4 linked regions of the Homo sapiens genome follow. The protein of the gene in region 2 interacts with the protein of the main gene of each other region in a pairwise test. Each region holds a gene or a part of one and is shown on either strand. Other genes may lie near its edges.

Region 1 (7,579 bases), on a different chromosome or scaffold from region 2:
CAAGAATGTTGCAATGGATGAGCAGGAGGGGAGGGTGGTGGGGGTGGGGTGGGTGGGTGGGGGTGGGTATTAAATGGTGCAGGCAGAGAATGTACCCTGGAGCTCTGAGCCCCTCTAAGCCTTTCTCCTACCCCCATAGCCCTGGCGCAACCACTGCCTTGTTCTCTCCCAGCCTTCCCAAGGCCTCACTCCAGCACATTCTTGCCACCTGCCAGAAGCAGCAGAGGAAGGGAGAAGTCATCATTTGGAAGCTTTTTACTAAAGCCCAGGGAGGGGCTCCCCCGCTGCCACACTGGCCTCTATAACCGAGTTGCCTGTGTGCCTCACCCTCTTGGCTCCACTTCCTGCACCACATGGGCACCCACTGCCAGAAAGAGCTCTTATTCTTTCTTGAAGACCCAGGAGAGGAACTTTCTTGACTTGGCTCAGACTTGGGAAGCAGGGGAATGTAGGGTACCTGGCAGTCACCCAACCCCTACATTCGCATTGTTTGGGCTTCTCCAACCAAGACCTGTTCCTGGGCCCCTTGTGCCCAGAGCAGCAGTCAAGGCCATCTGAAGAAATGGGGAGAGGAGGAAGCCCAGGGCAGTGGTCCTGTGAGGAACCAGAACATGGACACACAGTCTCCCATCAGAATGGCAGCCTTCACAAGCACAGGGACTAGAGTATGGCCATTGTATCCCCAGCACATAGGACAGTGCTGGGCACATGGTAGCCAAGTAGTGTTTATTAAAGACTTTGTGCCTGGCACTTGCAAATTGGTGCACAAATTTACTCACAGCATTTCATGTATCTATGTAAACTTAGAGTCTCCTTTAAAATGAACAGTATCCTCATTCTATAGAGGGAAAAACTGAGCCACAGAGAGGTTAATGGCTTCAAATCACATAGGCACCACAACACTGCAGAGATAATTTCAACCTCATGCAGGCCAGTGTTCTCGGGATGCCCAGGAAAACTTTCTTGTACTTTGAAAGAATGACTCTGTGCTTCAAAAATTCCCAAGAGGGTGACGTCTCCTTTTCCTCTGCTTCCCTTACAGCCATCACAAGGAAAAATAATCACCCCTATAGGCTAAGGGTGGTGGCTCACACCTATAATCCCAGCACTTTGGGAGGCCAAAGTGGGAGAGTCCCTTGAACCTGTGAGTTTGAGACCAGCTTAGACAACATAGTGAGACCCTGTCCCTACATTACTGCTAATAATAATCTCTTCAAGGACACAATGGTGGTAGTGATGAGAGGAGTCAAGGAAGCAATTGGCCTGGGCCTCACATTGATAGATAACTTGAGTTTACATTTTTGATGTGGCACACTAATAAACTTTAAACTTGGGCCATATCACCAAACCACACCCTCACCATGCACTATCAATTTGTATTTATGATATCTTAAAATAAATCCTGTAAATAACTTGTAACTATATCAGTTGTGCTGCATTGTATTGGGGGGGGAGGTTAAAGCAGTTAAATTTGTAAATATAAACATCTTAAAAATACCGCAATCTTTTTATAGCCCTCTTTTTGTACCTTTGCATTTTAAAAATTCACTGAGATGAATAAATTCCCTGGGATGTCCTGATTGCTCCCTGCGGTCCCCAGAATGGAAGTGGGGGTGTGGGTGAGGATGGAGGAGTGGAAGATGCCTGAAACTGGTTACTAAAGCCCAGTTTATTCCAAAGCACTCTGATTCTGTGAGGCTGTTTTCCTCATTGCATTGAATTCGGGCTATTTTTTTGTCCCCTTTGTGTCTAACAGCAACAATCAGAAGCCCATCCTCATACCACAGGGGACTTGCTTCATTGAGACAGTTGAGCAATTTGGGGAGTTTTGGATGGGGCAATTTGTTTAGCATCCAAACCTTTTACAAAGCACGCCTTTCTTATCACCCATTCCCCAAATTACAAAAGCAGAGAAGATCATGATCAGCGGGCATGGGACAAAAGAGGCAATCTTTTTTATTTTTGTTTTTCTTTAACAATCTGAAACAACGGCCACTCCTACAAGCACAGTTTTCCAAGAATACCCAACCCAGGACAAGTTAAAGAACTGCCAGCACACAAGGGAAGAAGGAAAAAGGAAAGAACGACAAGGCCCAGAGCGATCAGGGCTAACACAGAAACCCCCTGGGGCACCCAAACAGGAAGAGGGGACTCGAGTGATGAAATCCACAAGCTGCTTCCATGAAATCAACATGTTTGAAAAAGGGACCTCCTCAAAGAAAACGAGATTCCAACTCTCTTCAGCGCAGTGCGAGCCACCGGTGGCAGGCACCGTTGCAGGGAACCTGAACTAACTCCATGCCATGCAGCCCCCAACTTTCTGGCCTGAGGATGCGCAGTCCCCGAACCCAACCACTCCTGTGCACATCTCCTTGTAAGTTATCTCCCCAGCCTGCTCACCCATTTGTGGCTTGGAAAACATAAATTGCGGGCTTTGCTCCCCAAGACGGCTGAAGGACGGACCCTTCGCTGATGGCCACGGGCCCTAATAGAAACAAACTAAGACTGTCTCCTAGGCACCTTAAATAACTGCAAACAAGCACTGTACCACGTGGAAGTCACACTTGGGTGGGGGGCAGTGTCACATCACCAGGCAGCCACCACAAACCTAGAATTTTCATGGTCCTGAGATGTCGCATTCCCCTTCTTATAAAGAATGGAAGACGGCAGCCCAGGGGCTCACAGGGACTAGCGTTGTCACATGGCTAGTTGGTGACCCAGCCACAAAGAGCCTAGCTATCCTGATTCCTAGGTGGAGATTTCTATCCCCTGGGCCTTTCCTCTTCCAAACCACGACTCTCAAAACAGTGATCATTTTAGAATCCACAAGTGTGGCTGATTAATAACACTGTCGATCGTAAGAGTGTAGCAGCAAAAGCTGTAATAAAAGCAATAACCGTAACATTAAGAAGAAAACAACTTGAACATTGTGGAGAGCTTTGTGTTTTTCACTTCTGCGGCCCAAAGCCAGCCAAGTTCCTTGAAGTCAGCACCGAGAGGTATTTGCAAGAATTAAGTGAATCAAAGTCCTTGAAAGAGCGAGGAAGCGCCCCTGCCCCGGCGGCGGTACTCACCAGCGCTCCCTCCGCAGGTGCTGGGCTGGAGGCGGCGGCCAGGTGGAGCGCAGCGCCCCGGGTATATATGGCGAAGGTGTTGCGCAAAGAGGCTGGCCGCTGTCATCACGCCCCTCGCACATTCCAGGACCGCCTGCCGCAGCCGCCGCCGGGGCACTGCCTACCTGCCGCCTTAATGAACCCATCGCGACTTCGCCCGCTGCGCGGAGAAGACGCGCGGCCAGCCAGGCTGCCGAGAGAAAAGCTCCGACGGGCCCCGCCGCGCGAACTGGCCCGAACGGCCCCAAACGGCCCCGCGCCCCTCGGCGCCCCGCGCGCCCTAGCCTGGCTGGTGCGCGCCCTCTCCCGCCCCGACTCGGTCCGCACGAGATTCCCGCAAGTGGGGCTCTCCCGCCCCTGCCTTCTCCTCAAGAACTTGAACCTTCTAGTCTAGCTCCTGTGAGGCTCAAGAGGTCAGAGACGTGAAGACACAGATAAAAGCCAGTTGGAAAGTCAGGGATAAAGCCCTTGGAAACAAAGCCTGGATTGTTCACCTTTATCAGTCTGTGGGGCGCTTTCTGCCCTGGGAGTCTGGGCTCTAGGTCCGCAATGGGAAAGGCTGGGACCGTCAAGCTGAGGAAAAGGAAGGGGGCTGTTCTCACCACTCCGTCCTAAGCCTGCTGCGGGTTTGGCAAACCACTGCGCTCGTTTCACATCCTGCTCTGCCTCGTGTCACCTGCGTGTGTATACAACAGTTCTCCAAACTGCTGTGAGATAGGATCTGTCCCAGGGAGAGTCCACCCCCATGCTTATCCCAACAGCTCCCCAGTTCTGTGCCGGGCACTGCTGGGCAGGCTTTGTCTCCAATGTGCACACGAAAGCCTTCCCTGGGGCTAAGACTGGCGCCCTCTCTAGCTGAGGTTTAAGGGGTTAGGGGATATGATACAATTACCCAGGATTTGCTGAGCAGGAAGAAAACCTGCTTCTTATTCTGAAACCCAGACCCTCTCCTCTGCTGCGCACTCTCCTGGTTTTATAGTGGAGCACAGTGAGGCTCAGTGAGCTTACTAGTTGCCCAGCTCCTCACAACAGCGGAAGCACCCTACTGGAATTAGCTGGTTTCATTCCAACATCGAGTTCTCTCCACTGTGCAAGGGGAAGGACTCGGGAGCACGACTTCCAGGAGCCTAGAGCTCTGGGGCTGGTGTTGGCGGTGGCTAAGCACACTGACTCTGGGCCGAAACTCCGGGAAATCAGTTCCCTGTTCTGCCCCTTGCTTTCCCTGGCTCCATTTGCTTATGTGCAAACTGGGAATAATGGTCCCCGTTGGAGTAAAGTGAGCTAAAATATGTAAAGAATGTGGAATGGTACTTGGCACATAAATAGTATTCAGTGCGAGTTAACCATGATCGTTTTCACAGGGAAACTCTGGTGTTGGGAGAAGATGGGTGGGAAGCCTTGATTAGACTCATCTAGAACCTTCACTGGAGAAATCAAATCTGCTTGGGTTGCTGTTATTACAGGGATGATGGTTTTGCTAGTGGGTGTTGGCCTTCAGATCCAACTCTCAGACAATGATCAACCAGTACCTTTGCAACAAGCAGCTTCTAAAGCATAGTCCACTGATGACAGGAATCCCCTGGCACCTGTTCACCAAGCTCAGCTCTGCCTCCAGCCCTGGGCAAGGCGGACTGCAGACACCACTTGGCTTTACAATGAGGAAGGGCTCTACTGCCAGGGTGCAGAGGAGGAAGCGTGCTGCACACACTGCTGTCGGTGAACTCGACCCGGATTCGGCAAAGCCTGGCTCTTAGTTCATGTCCTGCTCTGCCCTGTGCTTGGGGGTTCACAGGAGCAGGTCTTAACAGGACAGTCACCTCAATGAGAATCCCCTCCTGACTGTGGGCTTTCATTTGGGACACAGACCTAATTGCCTTTCCATTACTTTCAACAAGGAGTGAATGTAGGAGGGAGACCAAAATTTCAAAAACTTGGAGAAAGAAAAAGGTATCCCTTTTGTGTTCCGATTAAAAAGGCAAAACAGGTTCAATCCCGAACATTGTTCTCTTAATGTGTATAGATCTTGGTAGTAGATCAGGGATGGTATCTGATTCTAGTTTGGGATTGTAATTTATATAATTTTTTTTTACAAAGTCTGGAGGAAAGGTAGATGGCGTGTCTGTGTTCATCACTCTATAATCTCTCCCTTTAGGAGAGTACAATTTGCTGAAGAACATTTTCCTATCGTTATTCCATCTGAGATACAAAATACTCTCACCATTTAGTACTTCAAACATAGAGCCTTATGTATAAATACAAACATCTAAAATACTTTCATCGAGGCTGGGTGTGGTGGCTCACATCTGTAATCCCAACAGTTTGGGAGGCCGAGGCAGGCAGATCACTTGAAGCCAGGAGTTGGAGACCCGTCTACCAACATGGCGAAACCCCGTCTCTGCTAAAAATATAAAAAAATCCCAGCTGCTCAGGAGGCTGAGTCACAAGAATCACTTGAACCCGGGAGGCGGAAGTTGCAGTGAGAGCTAACTGCAATCCAGCCTGGATGACAGAATAAGAATCTGTCTCAAAAAAATTAAATTAAAAAAAAATACTTTCATCAAAAAAGTGTCACCAAACCGGGCACAGTGGCTCAAGCCTGTAATCCCAGCATTTTGGGAGGCCGAGACGGGCGGAACACAAGGTCAGGAGATCGAGATGATCCTGGCTAACACAGTGAAACCCTGTCTCTACTAAAAATACAAAAAAAAATTAGCCGGGCATGGTGGCGGGTGCCTGTAGTCCCAGCTACTCAGGAGGCTGAGGCAGGAGAATGGCATGAACCTGGGAGGCAGAGCTTGCAGTGAGCCAAGATCGTGCCACTGCACTCCAGCCTGGGCGACAGAGTGAGACTCTGTCTCAAAAAAAAAAAGTATTACCATTTTTTCAACTCATTTCAGTATATTTTTGCGCCTATTGTCCTATGAGGTGAGATTTAACAAGTTGGTAGGCTCTGTGTTAATCTGGAGAGGAAACACCCCATCCAGGGCTGGCTGCTACCCAGCTTCAGATATTGCATGAGAAAATATAGTCAGATGCTGTCAGATCTTGACTTTTGTGGGGAAGCCAGATATACAGGTCTTTATGTGAAATGTACCATTAAAAAAATACGGAGTAGGTCAAACAAAGCAGCTCTGTGAACTACTGATTTTCATCCTGGTGCTAGACATACTCTCAGCTGTTCGGACCCTGCCCCAGTGCCCTTTCTACCAGTATATGGCTTGTCCCCAAGGCCCTCTGGCACTTCTTTTTACCCTTCACTGGGGCTGACTTTCTTTACAACAAAGTGGCAGAGAGATTCCACAGGAGTGATTGGATGACAGCCTTCCTGGGAGGTGATTGTGTGGTGAGACAAAGGCACCCAGGAGTCCAGGTTCTCCTTTCTCTTCCTCGGCTCGGTGCCTTACCCTCTGAGTCACCAGGCCTGGGAAAACCCAGGAGTTCAGACTGATGGGAAAGTCCTAGCTCATTCCAAACTCTCTGGCAGGATGAAGCTGCCAGTTACTGAAGACAGAAAAGAGGTAGGGATGGCACATAACTGTCTGCTTGACTCTCAGCTGTCCAGGCAGGGCCTGGAGAGGAGGCAGCTGACTTCTGGGCTGACCTGCCCAGGGTACCCACCCCTGAGGACCAGTGAGCAAGCCCACTTAGTGCTTTTTCCCTGGCCGCAGCTGCTGCAAGAGAGGGGCACAAAGTGGATTGCATCATAAAAGCCTGAGAAAGTGTCTCCAAAAATAACACCTGAACAAAACCGCTTTGAACTTTTGCATTCATTAGACGCTTTTTCGGGGCCCTATGGCAGTGTTGATAATCTCAGAATTGTTCAGTCAGGCTCAGTGACAGGAAACCTATCCCCTTAGATACAGCCAGAATTCCAGAAAAGTCAAATAATGTGTTATCTAGTCATGAGACAGCACTGGACTTCAAAGAGTCAGGTTTAAATGGAGAAATGCTAACGGAACAGAACACAGGGCTGACATAATTACAGGCTGTCTTCAACCTGGCTTCAATATGTACATAAATATGCAGAGAAAAATACCGGAAAGCAATACACAAAAATGTTCATTGTGGTTATATTTGGTTGTGGGATATGGGAGACTGTATTTTTCTATTTGTATGCTGCTCCTAAAAGGATCTAAGACAGCTAACAGATCGACAAAGTATAATTGATTCAAAACTAAGTGAGAAAGAAGAGGCAAAGAGAAACGTAGGGAAGTAAGATTGAGGTGGAGGAGAGGTTAAATGCTGGAACCGTACGACACTGTCCATTTCTGTTTGTCAAAGACAGCCTAAAAGATCAATCATGGTAATGACTATTAGTACTGGTAAGAGTATGTGAATATTTTGCCTGAGTTATTAAATATAACAGTTCCTGATAATAAAGTTTGTATAGTTTATAAGTTATTTGGCAAGCCAGTGAGTGTAAAGCATTATCATAGGCCTGGAACTTAGTAGGTAAATACTACTCC
Region 2 (7,321 bases):
TGGGTCCTGGGCATCAGTATTTTTTAAAGCTCCTCAAATAATTCTAATGTGTTGTGCCTAAAAGTTGGGAACCCTGATCCAGATGAAGGTAATTTAGAGATCATCTGCTCCAACCCCTTTGTTGTCACAAAGGAGAACGCTTAGGCTGTAGGAAAATTGAGTGTCTGCCCTCTCAGATGTATCGATCATACAAACACAAATTCTCCTTACAGTCCCATCTATCTCTTCTCATTAGGACAAGTGCTTCCCGTGTCCAGATCAAGGATGCCCACAGATGGGTCACTATGCTGATAAATTTGCTGGCAGGACAAGTGAAGAGCAGCAGAAATTCTTCTTGAACACAGGAGAGGCTAGCAATTTCGCTCGTAAGTTGCACTTTGACTACCTGCCCATGTAAAGAAAGTATATAGTTTCTGTTACAAATGAGGGGCTTGCTTTCAACCTGAAATATTTGTGGGTACATTTTAATTATCTTAGAAATGGACACATTTACCGAAACTATTGCAGTTACAAGTAAACTGAGGATTTAGACAGAGTGTGCATTTCTTCCGTTCTATTTCTGCGGCATGAAATGAGAGCAAGCAACTAGTATAATTAATGGGATGAGGCCAGTTTGCACATCCTTGTGACCAGCTACCCTGAATTTTTACCACTCCACAGTTCATTGTTTCTTTCCTTTTTAAGGCCGCATCAGACACACCTGTTCTCTTCATTCAGCAAAGACGTAATTGGTACCAGCTCTTTGCTGGGCTATGTCCCTTAAGAAGCCCAACTCCATTCTCTGCTTTCCCCTCTGTCTGTGCATCCCTGATGCCCAGGGGCTGCCTCGCTGGTGGAGTGCAGGCAGGAATCAGGGGGAAGGATGATTTCTCTCCAAAACCTGCTGAATGGACTAAGACACAGGGTAGAGACTGGGCATGTTTGGGCCACTTTGTACCAACCTGCCCCATGACACTTCCATAGGAGGTGACCCAGTAAAGACAGAGGTTACATATTCATATAAATGTATAACACATCTTACATAGTTTTTAAAGTCAGATTTATTGAGGTATAATTTATATTTGGCAAAATGCACGCTGTTTAGCATACACTTGTATGAGTTTGGACAAATGAATAGTTGTGTAAACACCTCCAAATCAAGATACAGAACACTTCTATCACCATATATATCACTCTGTAATTTTTTTTTTTTTTTTTGAGACGGAGTCTCGCTGTGTCGCCCAGGCTGGAGTGCAGAGGCGCAATCTTGGCTCACTACAACCTCCCCCTCCCGGGTTCACGCCATTCTCCTGCCTCAGCCTCCCGAGTAGCTGGGACTACAGGCGCCCGCCACCATGCCAGGCTAATTTTTTTTTTACATTTTTAGTAGAGACGGGGTTTCACCATGTTAGCCAGGATGGTCTCGATCTCCTGACCTTGTGATCCGCCTGCCTCGGCCTCCCAAAGTGCCGGGATTACAGGCGTGAGCCACCGCACCCGGCCCACTCTGTGTATTTTTTTTGTAAGAAGACATTGATTAATCAATCCTTCCACTGATGTTGTGATGCATGAAATACTTGCCAATATTTCAACAACAAATTAAACACTCAAAAACCAGGTATTCATTCCTCAATCAACATTTATTTATGGGCCACAGACTATGCTAGACACTGAGGATGCAGGGACGAACAAGAGACTCCTCTCATGAAATTAATAATCCAGCCAAAGACAGAAACTGGGCAAGCAACTACAAGCGTGTTGGGCTTGGTGGCTGTTGCCATGACATTATGGGACAGAGAACCTGGCCCTGACCAGAAGGAGGGTCAGGGTCAAGGTCTCTGAAGACACGAAAGATGAATAGGAGTTAGGCAAGAATCATGTCTGTGTATATTAATGTACATCTGTGCACATGTGTGGGTGTATGAATGCATGTGTGAGTGTGTTTGTGTATGTACCTTTGTGTGTATGCATGTGTTTATATACGTATGTATATGAGTCTGTATGTTTATGTATATGTATGTGCATGTGTATGTATATTTGTATGTGGGTGTCTATGTATGTGCGTGGTTAAATGTGTGTAGGTTTGTGTGTGTGTGCACATACACATGCATGTTTGTGTAGATGTATGTGTGTGTGCACATGCACATGTTGTGTATATGTATTTGTGTATGTGCACGCACATGCATGTTTGTGTATATGTATTGTGTGTGCACATGCATATGTTTGTGTATATGTATTTGTGTGTGTGCACGCACATGCATATGTTTGTGTATATGTATTTGTATTTGTGTGCGTGTGCATGCAGGCCCTGGGACAGCATTTCAGGTAGAAGCCTAAGTGACAGCTGCTCGTGCACCTGCTCTGTGCTAGAGACTGCCCAGGGCCCTGGGGAGCAGAGAGGAAACACAGTCCCCGCCCTCGAGGTGCTTGCCAGGCTGCACTCCCGAGCTACCTTCCCAAATGTGGAGACAAGCCCCTATTCCCTCTCTCTTCACCTTACCTTACTGTACTGCCATTCTGGGGCAGAGCTGGCTAACAGAACTTTCTGCAATGAGGGGCATATTCTGTGTAGCCATTAGCCTCATGTGGCAACTTAACATTTGCAACACAGCGAATGAGTTTGAGAAACTAAATTTTTAATTGTATTTAATTTGGATTTAAATGTAAGCAGCCACATGTGGCTGGTGACCTCCTCCCTGGGCAATGCAGTTCTAGAGGGGGATACTGCTAAATACATACTTCTCCATAAGGCCTTGTTTGATTTGTAGATTAACAAATAGAATTTCTTATACTTTGGCTGGGTGTGGTGGCTCACGCCTGTATTCCCATCACTTTGGGAGGCGGACACGGGCGGATCACTTGAGGTCAGGAGTTGGAGACCAGCTTGACCAACATGGCGAAACTCTGTCTCTACTAAAAATACAAAAATTAGCCAGGCGTGATGGTGTGTGCCTGTAGTCCCAGCTACTAGGGAGGTTGAGGCAGAAGAATTACTTGAACCTGGGAGGCAGAGGTGGCAGTGAGCCAAGATTGCACCACTACACTCCAGCCTGGGTGACAGAGTGAGACCCCATCTCAAAAAATAATAATAATAATTTTTTAGAAAAGAATTTCTTATGCTTTGTTGCCTCAGAGTAAGAGAAGGAGACAAGTCTGGGATGTAGGCTACTTATTTTGTGTGTGAATAAATTGAACTCTTCCATCTCCTGTGCAGGCTGGAGATATGGGGTTTCCATCACACTGTCTGGAAGAACAGCCACTGGTCAGATCAAAGTTGCTTTGTTTGGAAATAAGGGAAACACTCACCAGTACAGTATCTTCAGGTAATTTCCTATTTTAACACTACGTCTCATTTGATGATATACACAGCCTTCAAACCACACACTTAATTTGAACACTTATCATCTCTTTATATGTCACTGGTTTTTAATTATAGTCATGCAACATGTAACAACATTTTAGTTGATGGACCACATACACAACAGTTGCTTTATAAGCTTGTAATACCATATTTTTACTGTACTTTTTCTATGTTTGGGTGTTTAGATACACAAATACTTACCATTGTGTTCCAGTTGTCTACAGAACTCAATACAGTAACATGTAGTACAGGTTTGTAACCTAGGAGCAATAGGCTGTACCATACAGCCTAGGTATGTAGTAGGCTGTGCCATCTACGTTTGTGTGAGTACATGCTATGATGTCCACACAATGATTAAATTACCTAAGGACACATTTCTCAGAACATATCTCCATTGTTAAGCAACGCAGGACTATATAACTTTATGTACTGATGTTAATTGCAGACTTCTGCTAATAATTTTTCTTTTCTGTTATAAACCTAGGCATTTCGTCCTTTCTCTCTCTTTTTTTTTTTTTTTTTTTTTTTTGAGAAAGAGTCTTTGCTCTGTCACCCAGGCTGGAGTGCAGTGGCACGATCTTGGCTCATTGCAACCTCCGCCTCCCGGGTTCAAGAAATTCTCGTGCCTCAGCCTCCCAAGTAGCTGAGATTACAGGCATGTGCCACCACACCTGGCTGATTTTTGTATTTTTAGTAGAGATGGGGGGCGTTTTGCCATGTTGGCCAGGCTGGTCTCGAACTTCTGACCTCAAGTGATCCACCCATCTCGGCCTCTCAAAGTGCTGGGATTACAGACGTGAGCCACCATGCCCGGCCTCTTTCTCTTAATAGATGTTTTTTTAAACATAAATCTAATATTACTTCAGATATGCTGTTTTCTGATTAGTGCAATAACACATGCTTATTGTGCCATACTATGTGGCCAATTTGTTACTGTACAAATAATTCTTCCAAAACATATAAAATGATATGCAGGAATTCTATTTTATTTTCTATTAGAAAGCTTTAAGGAAAAATTAACTTGAGTTTTAAAAACCATAGTTTGAGGTGCTAGCATATAGCTGGCTTTTCCATTTCTCCATCCTTTATTTGGAAATTAATTCGGAAAAATAATCCTGTTAATCTAGAAGAGAAAACAGCAGCCTGGCATTGTATGGTAATTAGAACTCATTTCCGTGAACAGGGATGTTTATGTTTCTCTATTTCAAGGGGGATTCTCAAACCAGGCTCAACCCATTCCTATGAGTTTGATGCAAAGCTGGATGTTGGAACAATTGAGAAAGTCAAGTTTCTTTGGAATAACAATGTGATAAATCCAACCCTCCCCAAAGTGGGTGCCACCAAGATCACTGTGCAAAAGGGAGAAGAGAAGACAGTGTATGTATCTTTGCTGGCTGGTGCCTAAAAATGTTTGCAGAGATTCATGTTATAATGAAAACCCACCCTAGAAAGTTACGTGTAGTTAAGCAAGAAAAGCCAAGAAAATTTACCCATCTGTGGCCCCTTCTCCCCAAACAAGCAACTGACAAACAGCATAAAATGTTTCTGTTGGGTGCACCTTATTGGGTGTTCTCAGCACTGCCTGTGGGAATACAGAAGATAAGGCTGCACTTTCAAGGTAAAATGAGAAAATACAAGAAAGAGAACAAGAAATCCTTTCTGAAGGGTACAAGTTTATAAGTATGGGCTAGTGAATAGCTATACTTGAAAGAGGAGAAGACCAATTACATTTCAGGATAATAAAACGGAAAATAAATCGGTTTTAGGAAAAGATCGAAAATTTTACATAGGACAAGAATGCACTAGGATTGCAATACTTGTGAGATCCTGACCTGTGGTCTCCCTGGCTTTGGGCCTGAATAAGCACAGGGCCGTGGGTAGGAAAAAGGGACGGCTGGAGGAAAGTTGGAGTGGTGACCTGAGAGGGCAGAGCGACTGTCTCTCAAACCTCAGACCCCAAGTCTGGCTAGTAGAACATGTGGCTTTGTGGGAAGGAGATCCTGGGCTCTCAGCCACCGATGTTCTTGAAGTTTGGGGTTAGGTGGAGTCACCGAGTTCAGGTCCCAGAGATTGTCACTCCCCCAGGTGGGGAGGGTGGGGTGGCAGAGTAGAATGGGGGCTGACTCCACATCTGGGTCTCCTCGAACTGGATGACTTAGTGAGGTTCTCCTTATCCCCACGAGGCAAGGAGAACAAAGAGGTTGGCCCTGCCAGGTGGTGGGTGGAACCAGGAGGCCTCATAAGCTAGAGCATAGTACAGAGGAGGCTGGGCCGGGCTGGTCGGGAGCCCTGTGCAAGCTGGAGGTGCAACCAAATCCTTTCCTCCCTGACCCCATCAGAGGATACTCAGCCTCTAAATTCAGCTCCCCAAGGCCCCATTAGCAAGCATCCCATGGCCTGGATCCTGGGACTGTGTGGTTAAAAACATGTCAGGTGGTGGCATCATTGGAATCTTAAAAATTAGAGGTGTTCCCAGGAGATGACTTGCTCACAGGTAAGGCATACAAGTCCAAATCAGCCAGGGCATTGCATCTTCCAGGTTTTCTGAGGAAAGGCTGAGGCTTTCTGAACTTTCTGCAAATGGAACAGAACATACTTAAGGCTGCACCTGAGGTCCTGTGCCCATCAGCTGTCACCTGCATTCCAGTGGCTGAGTGCAGCTCCCCTCGCTGTCTGCTCCAGAAAGACTCTTTCTTAAGAGCAGCTGGATATAAGACATCAGGTTTTCTAAACAGAGGAAAGTCAAAACAGCTTCAAATCTCTCAAACTAGTTTGGGAAGTAAAAACACTGAATTAGTTGAATTACTCAAACATTTTCCTGTTATGAAAATGGCCAGTAACATTTAATAATAATAATAATAATAATAATAATGAAGAAGCTAAAGAAAATCAAGATTTTGGTCCAAGCTCTTCTCAGAATCCCCTCATATTTTTTAGTAACCTCATTGGGGTTTCAATTCCTACTAAGGAATCTGCCGACTAGGATTCCCTCCAATGACACAGTATCCAAAGAGAAAGGCAGCCCTCCCCCTCTTTATTTCTCCGTCCCCCTCTCTTTATTAAGTACCTTTGGTAAATGTACCCTTGCAAATGACTTTATTCAGTACCTATTGTATGGCCTGGCAAACAGTAAGGGATGCAAACACTGAGCCTACACTCAAGGAGCTTACAGTTCAGCTGTTGAGAAAAATCAGACTTATGGTTCACAGGGAAGGTCAAAAGACCAAATAAAGAACTCCCAGGAGAGGCTCAGAAAGACAGTGGCCAAGGAGGAAAGCAGAGGGCCGCGGGGAGGCTGTGATGGAAGGAAGGGCAGCTCTCAGGATGAGGCAGGGAGTAGGAGGGAGGAAGGGCACAGGGGCAGGGCAACAGGTCCAAGTGCATGAGGGGCGACAGGGCCCAAGTGCAGGGAATATGATCGGAGGCCTCCGATGCCAAGTTAGGGCTTCTTGGCAGAAAAAATGAAACACAGAAGAGAAAGTGGGAAGGGGCCAAGGAACACCAGTGAGGAAATGGGGCAAAGCTTCCGAGCTCACAGGTGGTGAGGCCTGAGAGAAGTCCGTGGTTCTTGAACAACCACAAAAATAACTGCTTACATCTGCATTGTTTTTTGTTAATTGTAAGACTTTTTACATTTACCATCATGGGATGTTACGTTCTTATCATGGAATTCTCAACAGTCGTGGGAGAATGACTGAGATGGAATCTCGCTCTGTTGCCCAGGCTAGAGTACAGTGGCATGATCTCAGCTCCACTGCAACCTCCACCTCCTGGGTTCAAGAGATTCTTGTGCCTCAGCCTCCCAAGTAGCTGGGATTACAGGCATGCACCACCACGCCCGGCTAATTTTTGTATTTTTAGTAGAGACAGGGTCTCACCATGTTGGCCAGGCTGGTCTCAAACTCCCGGCCTCAAGTGATCCACCTGCCTCGACCTCCCAAAAGTGTGGGGATTACAGGCATGAGCCACCACACCAGGCCT
Region 3 (7,321 bases), on a different chromosome or scaffold from region 2:
TAGCTGGGATTGCAGACGCCCGCTACCATACCTGGCTAATTTTTGTATTTTTGGTAGAGACGCGGTTTTTCCATGTTGTCCAGGCTGGTCTCCAACTCCTGACCTCAGGTGATTCACCTGCCTCGGCCTCCCAAAGTGCTGGGATTACAGGCGTGAGCCACCGTGCCCGGTCCCCCCCCACTTTTTTTTTTTTTGAGACAGAGTCTCGCTCTGTCACCCAGGCTGGAGTGCAGTGGCACGATCTCAGCTCACTGCTACCTCCGCCTCCCAGGTTCAGATGATTCTCCTGCTCCAGCTTCCTGAGTAGCTGGGGTAGCCTGCCACCACACCCAGCTAATTTTTGTATTTTTGGTAGAGACGGGGTTTCACCATGTTGGCCAGGCTGGTCTCGAACTTCTGACCTCAAGTAATCTGCCTGCCTTGGGCTCCCAAAGTGCTCAGATTACAAGTGTGAGCTACAGCGCCTGGCCTTTTTTTTTTTTTGAGATGGAGTTTCACTCTTGTTGCCCAAGCTGGAGTGCAATGGCACGATCTCGGCTCACTGCAACCTCCATCTCCTAGCTTCAAGCATTTCTCCTGCCTCAGTTTCCTGAGTAGCTGGGATTCCAGGCATGCGCCACCACATCCAGCTAATTTTTTGTATTTTTAGTAGAAACTGGGTTTCACGATGTTAGCCAGGCTGGTCTTGAACTCCTGACCTCAGATGATCCCCCCGCCTCAGCCTCCCAAAGTGCTGGGATTACAGGCGTGAGCCACCGCGCCCGGCCTTTTTTTTTTTTTTTTTTTTTTATGGAGTCTTGCTCTGTCTCCCAGGCTGGAGTGTGGTGGTGTGATCTTGGCTCACTGCAACCTCCTCCACAGGCAACCTTCTGCCTCAGCCTCCTGAGTAGCTGGGATTACAGGCATGCGCCACTGTGCCCGCCCAGGGATTCAGGTTTTCTAACCAACTTTTAGGGTCTTTTTTTTTTTTTTTTTCAACAGAGACAGAGTTTTGCTATGTTGCCCAGGCTGGTCGCGAACTACTGGGCTCAAGCAATCTTCTGCCTCTGCCATCTGAGTAGCTGGGACCACGGGCGTGTGACACTGCAACCAGCTAACTTTTTTTTTTTTTTTTTTTTTTTGAGATGGAGTTTCACTCTTGTTGCCCAGGCTGGAGTGCAATGGCATGATCTTGGCTCACTGCAACCTCCGCCTCCCAGGTTCAAGCGATTCTCCTGCCTCACCCTCTCAAGTAGCTGGGATTACAGGCACCTGCCACCACGCCCGGCTAATTTTTGTATTTTTAGTAGAGATGGGGTTTTACCCTGTTGGCCAGGCTGGTCTCGAACTCCTGACCTCAGGTGATCCACCCACCTTGGCCTCCCAAATTGCTGGGATTATAGGCGTGAGCCACTGCACCGGGCCTACAACCAGCTAACTTTTTATATTTTTTGTAGAGATGGAGTTTCACCCTGTTGCCCAGGCTGGTCTTGAACTCGTGGACTCAAACTGTTCACCTGCCTCCGCCTCTCAGAGTGTTGGGATTACAGGCTGGAGCCACTATGCCCAGCCCCCTTTTAGGGCCTTCAGGAGACTGAGATGTCGGGGGCAGGGGCTGGGGAGGAACAGCCCCTCAGGGCCGTGTGGCAGGGTCCACTTGGTCATGAGGTATCCCAGCGTGGTATAAGGGATGGGTGGACTCTGGGTCAGCTCCTCACCTGCCAGCTGTGTGACTGGGTGAGTCGCTTTGCCTTTCTGGGCTGTTTCCTCATCTGCGAAATGGTGGTGATGACAGTGCCTACCACACGGGGTTGCTGCGAGAGCCGTGCCCGTGTGGTACCCGACGTGGCCCTGGGATCCCAGAGGCTGTTGGCTTTGGTGATCTGAGCTGTAGGGTCTCAGCTCTGGGGGCCTTGCAGATCACCTGGTCCACTCAGGTTGAGAGGGGAAGGGACTTTCTCGGGGTCACACAGCCAGTGACCTTCCCAGTGCCTGGCTCAGTGCTTCGCTTCCCCTTACACCTGATGGCAGAACCCCAGGGCTCAGGGACACTCATGGATGTCATTTGGGGGAAGTGGCTCAGTTTACTCAGCTTCACTGGCTTGTTCTAGTGTGCTCTGTGGGAGAGCAAAGAGGAGAGCATCAATCCCAGTGGCCCCAAGGGACTGGATTTAAAGGTGCCATAGAGCCATTTGGTCAGTGTAGGCCTTTCAGATAGATTCTGAGTTGGGGTTATTATTTGTCTGTTTGTCTAAATCAAGCTAGAACTTGACATCACTTAATAAGACCAGGGAAGTTGACTGAAGGAAGCAAGAGAAGGAAGGAGCACAAATACATTATGCTCAAGATTAATTTTACTCTGAGCTTCCTAGTAGCCAAAGTGAAAAAGGATATGTGCTTAGACCCACAGCTCTTTTTGGTCCTGGCTCTTCAGAGGAAATGGAGCTTTTTCTCATGGTACTGAGCATAGAAGCCCAGGTAATGCTCAGTGACAGGTGTCATGAGGCTGGTCTTTATAGCTTCTCCTAGTGGGCACCAAAATGGATGATGAAGCTTTCTGGATGAGGGTGGTGGGGAGAGGGTGCTCCTGGCAGAGGGGGCAGCGTGAGCAGAGGCCTGGTAGTGTGGACAAGCCGGTGTGTTTGGGGAAAGGCAGGCTCCTGCACTGACCCCGCGGGTCCTGTCGTTTCAGTTGGGCCATATGGTGCTCTTCCCAGTCTGGTTCCTGTACAGTCTGCTCATGAAGCTGTTCCAGCGCTCCACGCCAGCCATCACCCTCGAGAGCCCGGACATCAAGTACCCGCTGCGGCTCATCGACCGGGAGGTGAGTGCCGGCCGCCGCCGCTGCCTCGTCAGCATCACAGCATTGCCCAGCACCTACTCTGTGCTCAGGGCATGGTCCTGCTCTGAAGTAGATACTGTTGTCCACCCATTTTACAGATGGAGAAAGCAAGGTGATGTCTCTTGCTAAGGCCACCAGGAAGTAGCAGAGGAATTTAAACCCTGGTCTCTCTGTCCACAGAGCCCCTTCTCTGAACCACACTCACTGCCTCATGCAAGGTCAGAATGGAAGGAACCCCTCAGAACTTTTAGGTTCAATCCCCCATTTATGGGGTAGGAATGCAGGGGGTGAGAGATTTGAAGATAAGGTCTCCTCCCTCCTCCCCCTCCCCCAGAGTCATTCCCCACAGCCTGGTACTACTGGACCTGGACACCTTTCACATCTGTGCAGATTCCCTGGGTGCTCTGAGCTGTGTGGGCTTCCTCTGCCCTGTTTGATTCTTACTTTCTTTCATTAGTGAGTTCATACTTTTTTTTTTTTGAGACAGAGTCTTGCCCTGTGTCCCAGGCTGGAGTGCAGTGGTGCGATCTCCGCTCACTGCAACCTCTGCCTCCCCAGGCTCAAGTGATTCTCCTACCTCAGCCCCCTGAGTAGCTGCGATTACAGGCGTGAGCCACCGCGCCCAGCCTAATTTTTGTATTTTTTGTAGAGGTGGGGTTTCGTCCTGTTGCCCAGGCTGGTCTCAAACTCCTGGGCTCTAGTGATCCCCGCACCTCCACCTCCCAAAGTGTTGGGATTACAGGCATGAGCCGTGGTGCCCGGCCTGACTCCTTTTTTTCAAAGCTCTGATTATGATTTAAAACCATCCTCTCCCTCTTTTGCCTTGCCCCCAGTAAAGGCTGCTTCCATCGGTCACTTGCCCTCTTCAGAGCCCCTCCCTTGCTCTATTTCTGGCCACCCCCAGCAGGCACAGGAGGGGTGTGGCAGGGAAAACTGAGTCACAGCAGAGAACATCATCTGCCAGGGCCCAAGTCTCCACCCTGGGCTTGTGCCTGGTGCCTCTGACTCAGGCTTCACAGGAATCTCAGGCTTCCATGGCACGGAGCTGGCCGTTTCCTGTAACTGTTGGGGCAAGTGTCTGTAATTGTCCCAGGAGCTCACAGAGAAGTTGACAACCAGAGAGAAGCAAAAAAATACAAAATGAAAAGTAAATTATTGGCCAGGCACGGTGGCTCATGCCTGTAATCCCAGCACTTTGGGAGGCCGAGGCCGGTGGATCACCTGAGGTCAGGAGTTCAAGACCAGCCTGGCCGACATGGTGAAACCCCATCTCTACTAACAATACGAAAATTAGGCCAGGCGTGGTGGCTCACACCTGTAATCTCAGCACTTTGGGAGGCCGAGGAGGGCAGATCATGAGGTCAGGAGATCGAGACCATCCTGGCTAACACGGTGAAACTCTGTCTCTACTAAAAATACAAAAAATTGGCCGGGCGTGGCTGGGCTCACACCTGTAATCCCAGCACTTTGGGAGGCTGAGACAGGCGGATCACAAGGTCAGGAGATTGAGACCATCCCGGTAACACGGTGAAACCCTATCTCTACTAAAAATACAAAAAATTAGCCAGGCGTGGTGGCAGGCACCTGTAGTCCCAGCCGCTGGCGAGGCTGAGGCAGGAGAATGACGTGAACCTGGGAGGCGGAGCTTGCAGTGAGCCGAGATTGCGCCACTGCACTCCAGCCTGGGTGACAGCAAGACTCCGTCTCAAAAAAAAAAAAAAAAAATTAGCTGGGCGTGGTGGCAGGCACCTGTAGTCCCAGCTACTCCAGAGGCTGAAGCAGGAGAATGGCGTGAACCTGGGAGGTGGAGCTTGCAGTGAGCCGAGATCGTGTCACTGCACTCCAGCCTGGGCTACAGAGCAAGACGCTGTCTCAATCAATCAATCAATCAATCAATATGAAAATTAGCCGGGCGTGGTGGCAGATGCCTGTAATCCCAGCTACTCCAGAGGCTGAAGCAGGAGAATGGCGTGAACCTGGGAGGTGGAGCTTGCAGTGAGCCGAGATCGTGCCACTGCACTCCAGCCTGGGCTACAGAGCAAGACGCTGTCTCAATCAATCAATCAATCAATCAATATGAAAATTAGCCGGGCGTGGTGGCAGATGCCTGTAATCCCAGCTACTTGAGAGGCTGAGGCAGGAGAATCGCTTGAACCTGGGAGGCAGAGGTTGCAGTGAGCCAAGATCACACCATTGCACTCCAGCCTGGGTGACAAGAGCGAAACTCTGTTTCAAAAAAATAAAAAATAAAAAGCAAAAAAAAGTAAATCACCACCTCCCAGATGAGACCACACTTAACCTTGCGATATGATTTTTTGTTTGTTTGTTTGTTTTTGAGATGGAGTTTTGCTCTCGTTGCCCAGGCTATAGTGCAATGGTGTGATCTCGGCTCACTGCAACCTCTGCCTCCCAGGTTCAAGCGGTTCTCCTGCCTCAGCTTCCCAAGTAGCTAGGATTACAGGTGCCCACCACCACGCCCTGCTAATTTTTTTTTTTTTTGTATTTTTAGTAGAGTCAGGGTTTCAACATGTTGGCCAGGCTGGTCTCGAACTCCTGACCTCAGGTGATCCACCCGACTTGGCCTCTCAAAGTGCTCGAATTACAGGCGTGAGCCACCGTGCCTGGCCCTGTGATATGTTTTATACTTATGTAAGCAGGCACACATGTTTTTTTCTTACCCAAATGAAATAATAACATTTTGAAACCTGTTTTTTAACGGTATTTTCCCTTGTTATTGTTATTGGTGGGTTGTTTTGTTTTTGTTTGTGTTTTTTTAGAACAAGGTCTCGCTCTGTCACCCAGGCTGCTTTCTGCAACCTCAAACTCCTGGGCACAAGCCTTCTGAGTAGCTGGGACCATGTGCATGCACCACTATGCCTGGCTCTGTTACTGTCGTTCCTTTTTGTTGTTGTTGAGATGGACTTTCGCTCTTGTTGCCCAGGCTGGAGTGCAATGGCACAATCTCGACTCACCGCAACCTCCACTTCCCAGGTTCAAGTGATTCTTCTGCCTCAGCCTCCCAGGTAGCTGGGATTATAGGCATGCGACACCATGCCCAGCTAATTTTGTATTTTTAGTAGAGATGGGGTTTCTCCATGTTGGTCAGGCTGGTCTCGAACTTCGACCTCAGGTGATCCGCCCGCCTCGACCTCCCAAAGTGCTGGGATTACGGGCATGAGCCACCACGTCTGACCCTACTGTTTCTTAATTCCAGAAATAATGTATGATTTATATGTGCTCACAGCAAAAACTCTGTAAGGTATGACCTCCACCCCTGCCCCATTGCCGCATCCCAGGGCCCCGTGCAGAGGGCCCAGGTCACAGCTCAGCGTGAGCCTGCCAGACCCTATGTGGGTATCACGTTCATACACGGGTGTGTGGAGGTGCGGGTGTGTGCACACTCAGTTTCTTTTTTTGATAACCTGGTTTTGTAGCCAGCCATACAACATGGATCCTTTTAGTATTTCATCATAGGGATGTTACACAAGGGAGCATGTGGCAGATGTCCTAGGATTGCAGCTTTGCCCCCTCATTGTGCCCATGGTGGCTTTGCGGGGTCCGCAGCGGGCCTGCTCTGGGTGCTCTGTGCTTTGCCCCACCCTGCTGCCCTACTAGAGGTTGGCCAGCACCATAATTGTTCATCTCTTGTCCTCATTTCTATTCTTTTTTTTGAGACAGAGTTTCACTCTTGTTGCCCAGGCTGGAGTGCAATGGTGCGATCTCAGCTCACTGCAACCTTGCCTCCCAGGTTCAAGTGATTCTCCTGCCTCAGCCTCCTGAGTAGCTGGGATTACAGGCATGCGCCACCACGCCTGGCTAACATTGTAGTTTTAGTAGAGACGGGATTTCTCCATGTTGTTCAGACTGGTCTCGAACTTCCGACCTCAGATGATTCGCCCACCTCGGCCTCCCAAAGTGCTGGGATTACAGGCATGAGCCACCACGCCTGGCCATCTCATTTCTATTCTTCCTCCAAATATTTTCTGGTACATGGGTGTCTGACCTTGACCCTTAGGACCAGTTGATAGTCCTGGAATCCACTTCCAGAAGGCCTTGGGGCTCTGTTTGCCCCTAATGCAGAAGCTTCTGGTAGAGGCAGCTTTGAGGCCTGGGCTGCCTGGGAGAGGTTGGTGGGCCCCCTGCACACCTGATCCTGAGTGGCGTTTGCACCGTCTTTCCTGCGATTTGCCTCTGCTCACACGTGTAGGGACGGGTCTCTCCTTGAGGCAGCTGCTCTGTGCTGGAACACTGCTCAGGTCGGAGAGTTCTCGTACTGAGCCGAGATGGGCATCTGTGATGTCCTGCCCTGTTGGAGAGGTCTGTTGTCCCCCTCTAAGTGATGACACCATCCACATGTGGACTTTGCCACGTTTGGATGTAAGCGCCTCTGCAGCGCCGACCTTCCGCATGGCTTCTTCACACTCCCTCTCCTGGCCATGCTGGGTACTGGGGACCCCACAGGGAGTGCACCCTCAGGACGCTGGGTTTGGTTCCAGCTCC
Region 4 (7,321 bases), on a different chromosome or scaffold from region 2:
CCTGAGGTCAGGAGTTGGAGATCAACCTGACCAACACAGAGGAACCCCATCTCTACTAAAAATACAAAATTAGCCAGGCATGGTGGTGCATACCTGTAATCCCAGCTATTCGGGAGGCTGAGGCAGGACAATCGCTTGAACCAGGGAGGCGGAGGTTGCAGTGAGCCGAGATCATGCCATTGCACTCCAGCCTGGGCAACAAGAGCAAAACTCCATCTCAAAAAAAAAAAAAAACAAAAAAAAACGCCGGGCAAGGTGGCTCACACCTGTAATCCCAGCACTTTGGGAGGCCAAGGTGGGCAGATCACAAGGTCAAGATTGAGACTATCCTGGCCAACATAGTGAAACGCCATCTCTACTATAAAAATGCAAAAATTAGCTGGGCATGGTGGCATGTACCTGTAACCCCAGCTACTCAGGAGGCTGAGGCAGGAGAATCGCTTAAACCCAGGAGGCAGAGGTTGCGGTGAGCTGAGATAGCACCACTGCACTCCAGCCTGGTGACAGAGCAAGACTCCATCTCAAAAAAAAAAGATTGTGGTCCAGTAACTTGGTTTCCCAAACTGAAAGCATCACCTTGACTATCTATAATAGACAACTTCAGGACCTAGTAACATTCCATATTTATTATGCAAGGTGACAAAACATGCTATGAATTACATCTTAAAATAAGACTAAGACCTCCAGAGCAATCTGAAAGCCACTGAGAAATAGTCTGAAATGGGCTGGGTGAGGTGGCTCACGCCTATAATCCTAGCACTTTGTGGGGCTGAGGTGGGCAAATCACCTGAGGTCAGGAGTTTGAGACCACCCTGGCCAACATGGTGAAACCACATCTCTATTAAAAATACAAAAATTAGCCAGGCATAGTGGCGCCCACCCGTAGTCCCAACTATTCGGGAGGCTGAGGCAGAAGAATCACTTGAACCCGGGAGGTGGAGGCTGCAGTGAGCCGAGATCACGCCATTGTGCTCCAGCCTGGGTGACAGAGAGAGACTCTGTCTCAAAAAAAAAATCTGAACCCAGGAGACCTCAATGAGCATACGGTATAAAAGCGATACAATTTGTGGCGGGGCGCAGTGGCTCATGTCTGTAATCCCAGCACTTTGTAATCCAAGCACTTTGGGAGCTCCTCAGCACTTTATGAACTCCTGACATTTGAGGTCAGGAGTTCAAGACCAGCCTGGTCAACATGGGGAACCCTACTAAAAATATAAAAATTAGCTGAATGTGGTGGCGCATGCCTGTAATCCCAGCTACTCAGGAGGCTGAGGCAGAAGAATCGTTTGAACCCGGGAGGTGGAGGTTGCAGTGAGCCGAGATCACGCCACTGCACTCCAGCCTGGGCGACAGAGCGAGACTCCATCTCAAAAAAACAGTGATAGAATTTGCACCACCTTGTGGTAACAGGAACACATGACATTTTACTAGACATTTTATATAAAATGACTAGAATAAAAATATAAAAATTCCTATAGAAAGTAAAAAAAAAAAAATAGACTCGGGAAGGAACAAAAGTGGAAGTACAATACAATGACTTTTCATTAACAAAGAAGCTCCCAGGTCAACACCTCTGTATCCTCTTGCTGCAACTGCATCCCACAATGTACCTGTCAATATTAAGTTACATTGCCTTTCAGTCACCTGCAGGTGATGTACAGCCACTGAATAGGGTGTTCCAGGTTCTTAGTACAAAGAGCAATGATGATAATGGCAAGGGCAATATGTGGTATCTGGATGCCAGAATACATGAAACACAGGCCCATCAGCTGCAAGGTCCAGGTCAGCAGGTTGATACTTCGTTCATTCTCCAAGGGCCCATACTTGTAACATACTGCAAAACTCATGAATCCAACTGTGAGGACATAACCTATGAGAAGAGTTATCAGAAGACATTCTTTTTCATCTATACTTGGTAAAAATAATTTGTGTGGGAAGCAGTAGTTAATTTACTATATAGCACCAATTGAACTAGGAAATCAGATTTTTACTTAATTTTTCACACTTTTTTCTTAGAATATATTTCTCTAAGTTTCTATCCTTTCTGCTGTCCCAAATTTATTTGGTTCAAACAGAACATTAAAGGTACATGTTGAACAACCCTGAAATAGACTATTTTAAAAAACCAATATACAGAAATCCAGATTAATCACCCTTCAAAGGATAACTCAAAGGTTACTATCTATATGACCAAGGATTTTTACTTTGTAAATAAAATCTACAGCAGTTCATTCAGAAATGAAGGAGAAAAAAATTAACTGCGGAGTCTTTTACTTAAGGTCCCCAAGTATATTTAAAATATGATTCCATTAATAAAGTCAACTTACAGCTTTTCAGAAAGATGTTTATTGTGTAAAGAAAGGTATATTTATAAATACCAATAAATGAACATCTTCGCCTTAACAGCACCATTCTAATTTAAGAGAAGGTGATAATTGTAGAGGGATTAGAAATAAGTGAAAAACTATGATTTTTAAAAGTTTAAAAAAATGACATGAACTATTAAATCCCATAAGCAGGCAAAATCTTTTCATGATCAAATTAACTGAAACAGCCTATAAACGTACAAAAGGAAAGCAAAACCGACAACACTTACTTAAAAGATACTGCCAGTAACACCTCCAGATCTCTTGTAAATTTTTAAAAACTAGTTGAATGAGGTACAGAGAAAAAGACCAGCCTCCCACCAGGATGACGTAAATGGGACTTTTCTAAGACAGAGAGTAGAAGTGAAAGCAAAAAGTTACAACAGGCTTTCCATACATAAAAGAAGCAAAATGGAACTATGATTTTTTTTTTAAAAAATTCAACCTACTCAAAATGCACAAAAAACACTTCTCTTAAAAAGATGTCCTTTATACTTAAAATGGTACAGTCTGCAACGAACACTGGGAAGATGAAATGCTAAATAACTTAAAAGCCTGGCTATATAATTAAAAAACAGGAAGCAGACTTTAATCCCCCTCTGAGCACAGGATTTTATATAAAAAGAAAGAATTTGTAATCAGGCTCCAAGTTTCATCGTGGAAAGTACCTTTCTGAATCAAGGAGAGTAGGATATTGACTCATCAGCCATCAATACACATTTTCAGTTTTCTAAGATTACCCAGGAAAACAGTCCTTCAGCTATCCAAATTCATTCTAGCTGCACATGAAGATTCTGATACTTACCTTAGGCATAAACTTAGATAGTATAAAAATGATGATTAGCAGAGAGGCCACAATTCCCACAGTCATCCCAGTAGAGTAGTAGAAAATTTGACTTCTGCAGGAAAAAAATGTATTTCATGACCATATGTATATATTTCATACATAGCACTGTTGAAACTAGGACAACTAACCCAGCCGAAAGATTTTAAAAGGTACAAGATTAGAGCAGTACAAGCATCAGAGACATTTCAAATTTGGTTCCAGACCACTGCAATAAACCAAATATTGCAATTGCAGTAAGTAAGTCACACAAATTTTTTGGTTTCCCACTGCATATAAAAATTGTTTACACTATATTATAGTATATTAAGTGTACAACAGCATTATGTCTTAAAAATATATATTCCTTAATTAAAAATACTTTGCTAAAACCTGCTAAAGATCATCTACGCCTTCAGTGAGTCATCATTTTTTTTGCTGGTGGAGGGTCTCACTTCCATGTTGATGGCTGTTGACTGATGAAGGCAGTGGTTTCTGAAGGCTGGAGTGGCTGTGGCAATTTCTTAAAATATAATGAAGTTTGCTGCATTGACTCATCCTTTCAATGAAGATTTCTCTAAAGCATGCAATACTGTCTGATAGCATTTTACCACAACTTCTTTCAAAACTGGAGTCAATCCTCCAACAGCATTAACCCTTAACAAGAGGATCACCCCTCCTTTGAAGCTAGGCACTGACTTCTCTCTCGCTATCAAAGTCCTCAATGGCATCTTCTTCTAGTATAAGGCTATTTTGTCTACACTGAGGAGCTCTTTAATTGTAGCCACTTTCAACAATGATGTTAGCTAGATCTTCTGAATAACTTGCTACAGCTTCTATATCAGTGCTTGGTTCATCTTTTTTTTTTTTTTTTTTGAGACAAAGTCTCACTCTGTTGCCCAAGCTGGGGTGCGATGGCGTCATCATGGCTCACTGCAGCCTTGATCTACTGGGCCCAGGTGATTCTCCCACCTCAGCCTCCCGAGTAGCTGGTACCATGACTTTTTTGTATTTTTTGTAAAGGCAGGGTTTCACCATGTTGCTCAGGCTGGTCTCGAACTCCCTGGGCTCAAGTGATCTGCCCGCCTCAGCCTCCCAAAGTGCTGGGACTACAGGCCTGAGCCACCACGCCTAGCCTACCTTGCACTTATGTAATAAGACAGCTTCTTTCCTTAAATCTCATGAACCAAGAACCTTCACTAGCTGTAAACTTTTCTTCTGAGGCTTCCTCACCTCTCACCCTTCACAGAATTGAAGACAGTTAGGGTCTTGCTCTGGATCAGCCTTTAGCTTTAAAAAAGTTGTATCTGGCCGGGCATGGTGGCTCAAGCCTGTAATCCCAGCACTTTGGGAGGCTGAGATGGGAGGATCACGAGGTCCGGAGATCGAGACCATCCTGGTTAACACGGTGAAACCCTGTCTCTACTAAAAATACAAAAAAATTAGCTGGGTGTGGTGGCAGGCGCCTATAGTCCCAGCTACTAGGGAGGCTGAGGCAGGAGAATGGCATGAACCTGGGAGGCGGAGCTTGCAGTGAGCCGAGATCACGCCACTGCACTCCAGCCTGGGCAAGAGAGCAAGACTCTGTCTCAAAAAAACAAACAAACAAACAAAAAAAGAGTTGTATCTGGTTTAATCTTCTCAACAGCCAACTAAAACTCTCTCCATATCAGCAATAAGGCTGTTTCACTTTCTTATCACTTGTGTGTTCCCTGGAGTAGCACTTTTAATTTCCTTCAAGAACTTTCCCTTTGCACTCACAACTTGGCTAACTGCTCAGGACAAGAGGTCTAGCTTTCGGTCTGTCTTGGCTTTTGCTGTTCTCACTAAGCATAATCAGAGAGATGTATGACTCTTCCTTTCAGTTGAAGACTCACAATCTACTCTAGGGTTATTAATTGGCCTAGTTTCAATATTGCTGTTTCTCAGGGAATAGGGAGGCCCAAGAAGAAGGGAGACGGGAATAACCAATTGGTTGAGTTGTTAGAACACCCATGACATTTATCGATGAAGTTCACTGTCTAATATGGTTTGGCTGTGTCCCCACCCAAATCTCATCTTGAATTGTAGCTCCCATCATTCCCACGTGTTGTAGGAGGGAACTGGTGGGAGATAATTGAATCATGGGGGCAGTTGCCCTCATACTGTTCTCATGGTAGTGAATAAGTCTCATGAGATCTGATGGTTTTATAAGGGGTTTCCACTTTCACTTGGTTCTCATTCTCTCTTGCCTGCTGCCATGTAAGATGTGCCTTTTGCATTCTGCCATGATTATGAGGCCTCCCCAGCCACCAGGAACTGTGAGTCCATTAAACTTCTTTTTCTTTATAAATTATCCAGTCTTGGGTATCTTTATCAACAGTATGAAAATGAACTAATAGGCTGGGCGCAGTGGCTCACGCCTGTAATCCCAGCACTTTGGGAGGCTGAGGCAGGCAGATCATGAGGTCAGGAGATCGAGACCATCCTGGCTAACACGGTGAAACCCGTCTCTACTAAAAATACAAAAAATTAGCTGCACGTGGTGGCAGGTGCCTGTAGTCCCAGCTACTCGGGAGGCTGAGGCAGGAGAATGGCATGAACCCGGAAGGTGGAGCTTGCAGTGAGCCGAGATCGCGTCACTACACTCCAGCCTGGGCGACAGAGCGAGACTCTGTCTCAAAAAAAAAAAAAAGAAAATGAACTAATATACTGTCTTACATGGACATGTGGTGCCCCAAAATAATTGCAACAGCAGCATCAAAGATCACTGATTATGGATCACCATAACAGTTATAATCATATGAAAAAGTTTGAAATATTATAATTACTAAAATGTGACACACAGACCCCAAGTGAGCACATGCTGTTGGGAAAACGGTGTGATAGATTTGCTTGACCCAGGGTTGCCACGAACCTTCAATTTGGAAAGAAATGCACTATCTGTGAACCACAAAAAAGTGAAGTACAATAAAGTGATGTGTGACTATATTTGCCCAAAACTTGAGGTCAGAGAACTGTAGAGACTGATGCTATGTAGTTACTGCCAGATTATGAAGATTAGGATTAAAGGTCTTCCCTCATGTATTTCCCAATAATCAGCCTTTACGTAATGTCCTATTCACATCCCCATCATCTCTCCCGACCTGAATATTATTATTTTGTCACCCAGGCTGGAGTGCAGTGGTGCAATCACGGATCACTGCAGCCTCAACCTCCTGGGCTCAAGTGATCCTCCTACCTCAGACTCCCAAGTAGCTGGGACTACTGGCATGCACAACCATGCCTGGCTAATTTTTGTATTTTTTTGTAGAGGCAGGGTCTCACTATGTTACCTAGGCTGGTCTCAAACTCTTGGGCTCAAGTTATCCTCCCCCTTCAGCCTCCCAAAGTGCTAGGATTACAGGGGTGAGCCACCACAACCAGCCCCCCATTCCAGATTTTTTCTACCAGTTATTCCTCCCTGTTTCTCTCAGCATCACCAAAATAACAACTTCCAGCAACCCCACTCCAGCCCAACTTCAAACTCCAATTGTTAATCTTGCATTCACTACTCCACAAATACTTTTTACTTGTATACAAACTTAATGTTGATTTTACCTTCATTCAATGTTTATTTAGTTACCTATATATTTTCTTCATATTTGTACATGTCAGTCTCACCTGTCTTAACTAGTAGGTTCCTAAAGGAAAAAATGAATAAACACTTGATTTTTTTTTTTTTTTTTAAACAGGGTCTCCCTCTGTGGCCCAGGTTGAAGTACAGTGGTGTGATCTTGGCTCACCGCAACCTCCGCCTCCAGGCTCAAGCGGTTCTCGTGCCTTAGCCTCTCGAGTAACTGGGATCACAGGCACATACCACCACGTCCAGCTAATTTTTGTATAGACAGGGTTTTGCCATGTTGCCCAGGCTGAGCTGTGATATTTGTTTCCTTTTTTTTGAGATGGAGTCTTGCTCTGTTGCCCAGGCTGGAGCACAGTGGCACGATCTCGGCTCACTGCAAGCTCCACCTCCTGGGTTCACGCCATTCTCCTGCCTCAGCCTCACAAGTAGCTGGGACTACAGGCGCCCGCCACCACGCCTGGCTAATTTTTTTGCATTTTCAGTAGAGATGGGGTTTCACCGTGTTAGCCAGGATGGTCTCGATCTCCT

The links.
Region 1: the proteins of PNLIPRP1 (region 2) and SLC34A2 interact in binary tests that used the Homo sapiens proteins (3 or more experiments, as listed by UniProt).
Region 3: the proteins of PNLIPRP1 (region 2) and CYB5R3 interact in binary tests that used the Homo sapiens proteins (3 or more experiments, as listed by UniProt).
Region 4: the proteins of PNLIPRP1 (region 2) and NEMP1 interact in binary tests that used the Homo sapiens proteins (3 or more experiments, as listed by UniProt).

The regions. Positions count from the first base shown.
Region 1 is NC_000004.12:25,651,386-25,658,964, reverse strand, and holds the start of SLC34A2 (sodium-dependent phosphate transport protein 2B), read right to left. Parts: upstream 3,115-7,579; 5' UTR 3,075-3,114; intron 2,502-3,074; exon of another isoform or gene 2,401-2,501; intron 1-2,400. UniProt on the Homo sapiens protein: Involved in actively transporting phosphate into cells via Na(+) cotransport.
Region 2 is NC_000010.11:116,600,837-116,608,157, forward strand, and holds part of PNLIPRP1 (inactive pancreatic lipase-related protein 1 precursor), read left to right. Parts: intron 1-235; coding exon 236-365; intron 366-3,193; coding exon 3,194-3,302; intron 3,303-4,305; exon of another isoform or gene 4,306-4,549; coding exon 4,550-4,717; exon of another isoform or gene 4,718-6,067; intron 6,068-7,321. UniProt on the Homo sapiens protein: May function as inhibitor of dietary triglyceride digestion. Lacks detectable lipase activity towards triglycerides, diglycerides, phosphatidylcholine, galactolipids or cholesterol esters (in vitro).
Region 3 is NC_000022.11:42,632,197-42,639,517, reverse strand, and holds part of CYB5R3 (NADH-cytochrome b5 reductase 3), read left to right. Parts: intron 1-2,671; coding exon 2,672-2,803; intron 2,804-7,321. UniProt on the Homo sapiens protein: Catalyzes the reduction of two molecules of cytochrome b5 using NADH as the electron donor.
Region 4 is NC_000012.12:57,061,475-57,068,795, forward strand, and holds part of NEMP1 (nuclear envelope integral membrane protein 1 isoform a precursor), read right to left. Parts: intron 3,266-7,321; coding exon 3,172-3,265; intron 2,712-3,171; coding exon 2,597-2,711; intron 1,871-2,596; coding exon 1,645-1,870; intron 1-1,644. UniProt on the Homo sapiens protein: Together with EMD, contributes to nuclear envelope stiffness in germ cells. Required for female fertility. Essential for normal erythropoiesis. Required for efficient nuclear envelope opening and enucleation during the late stages of erythroblast maturation.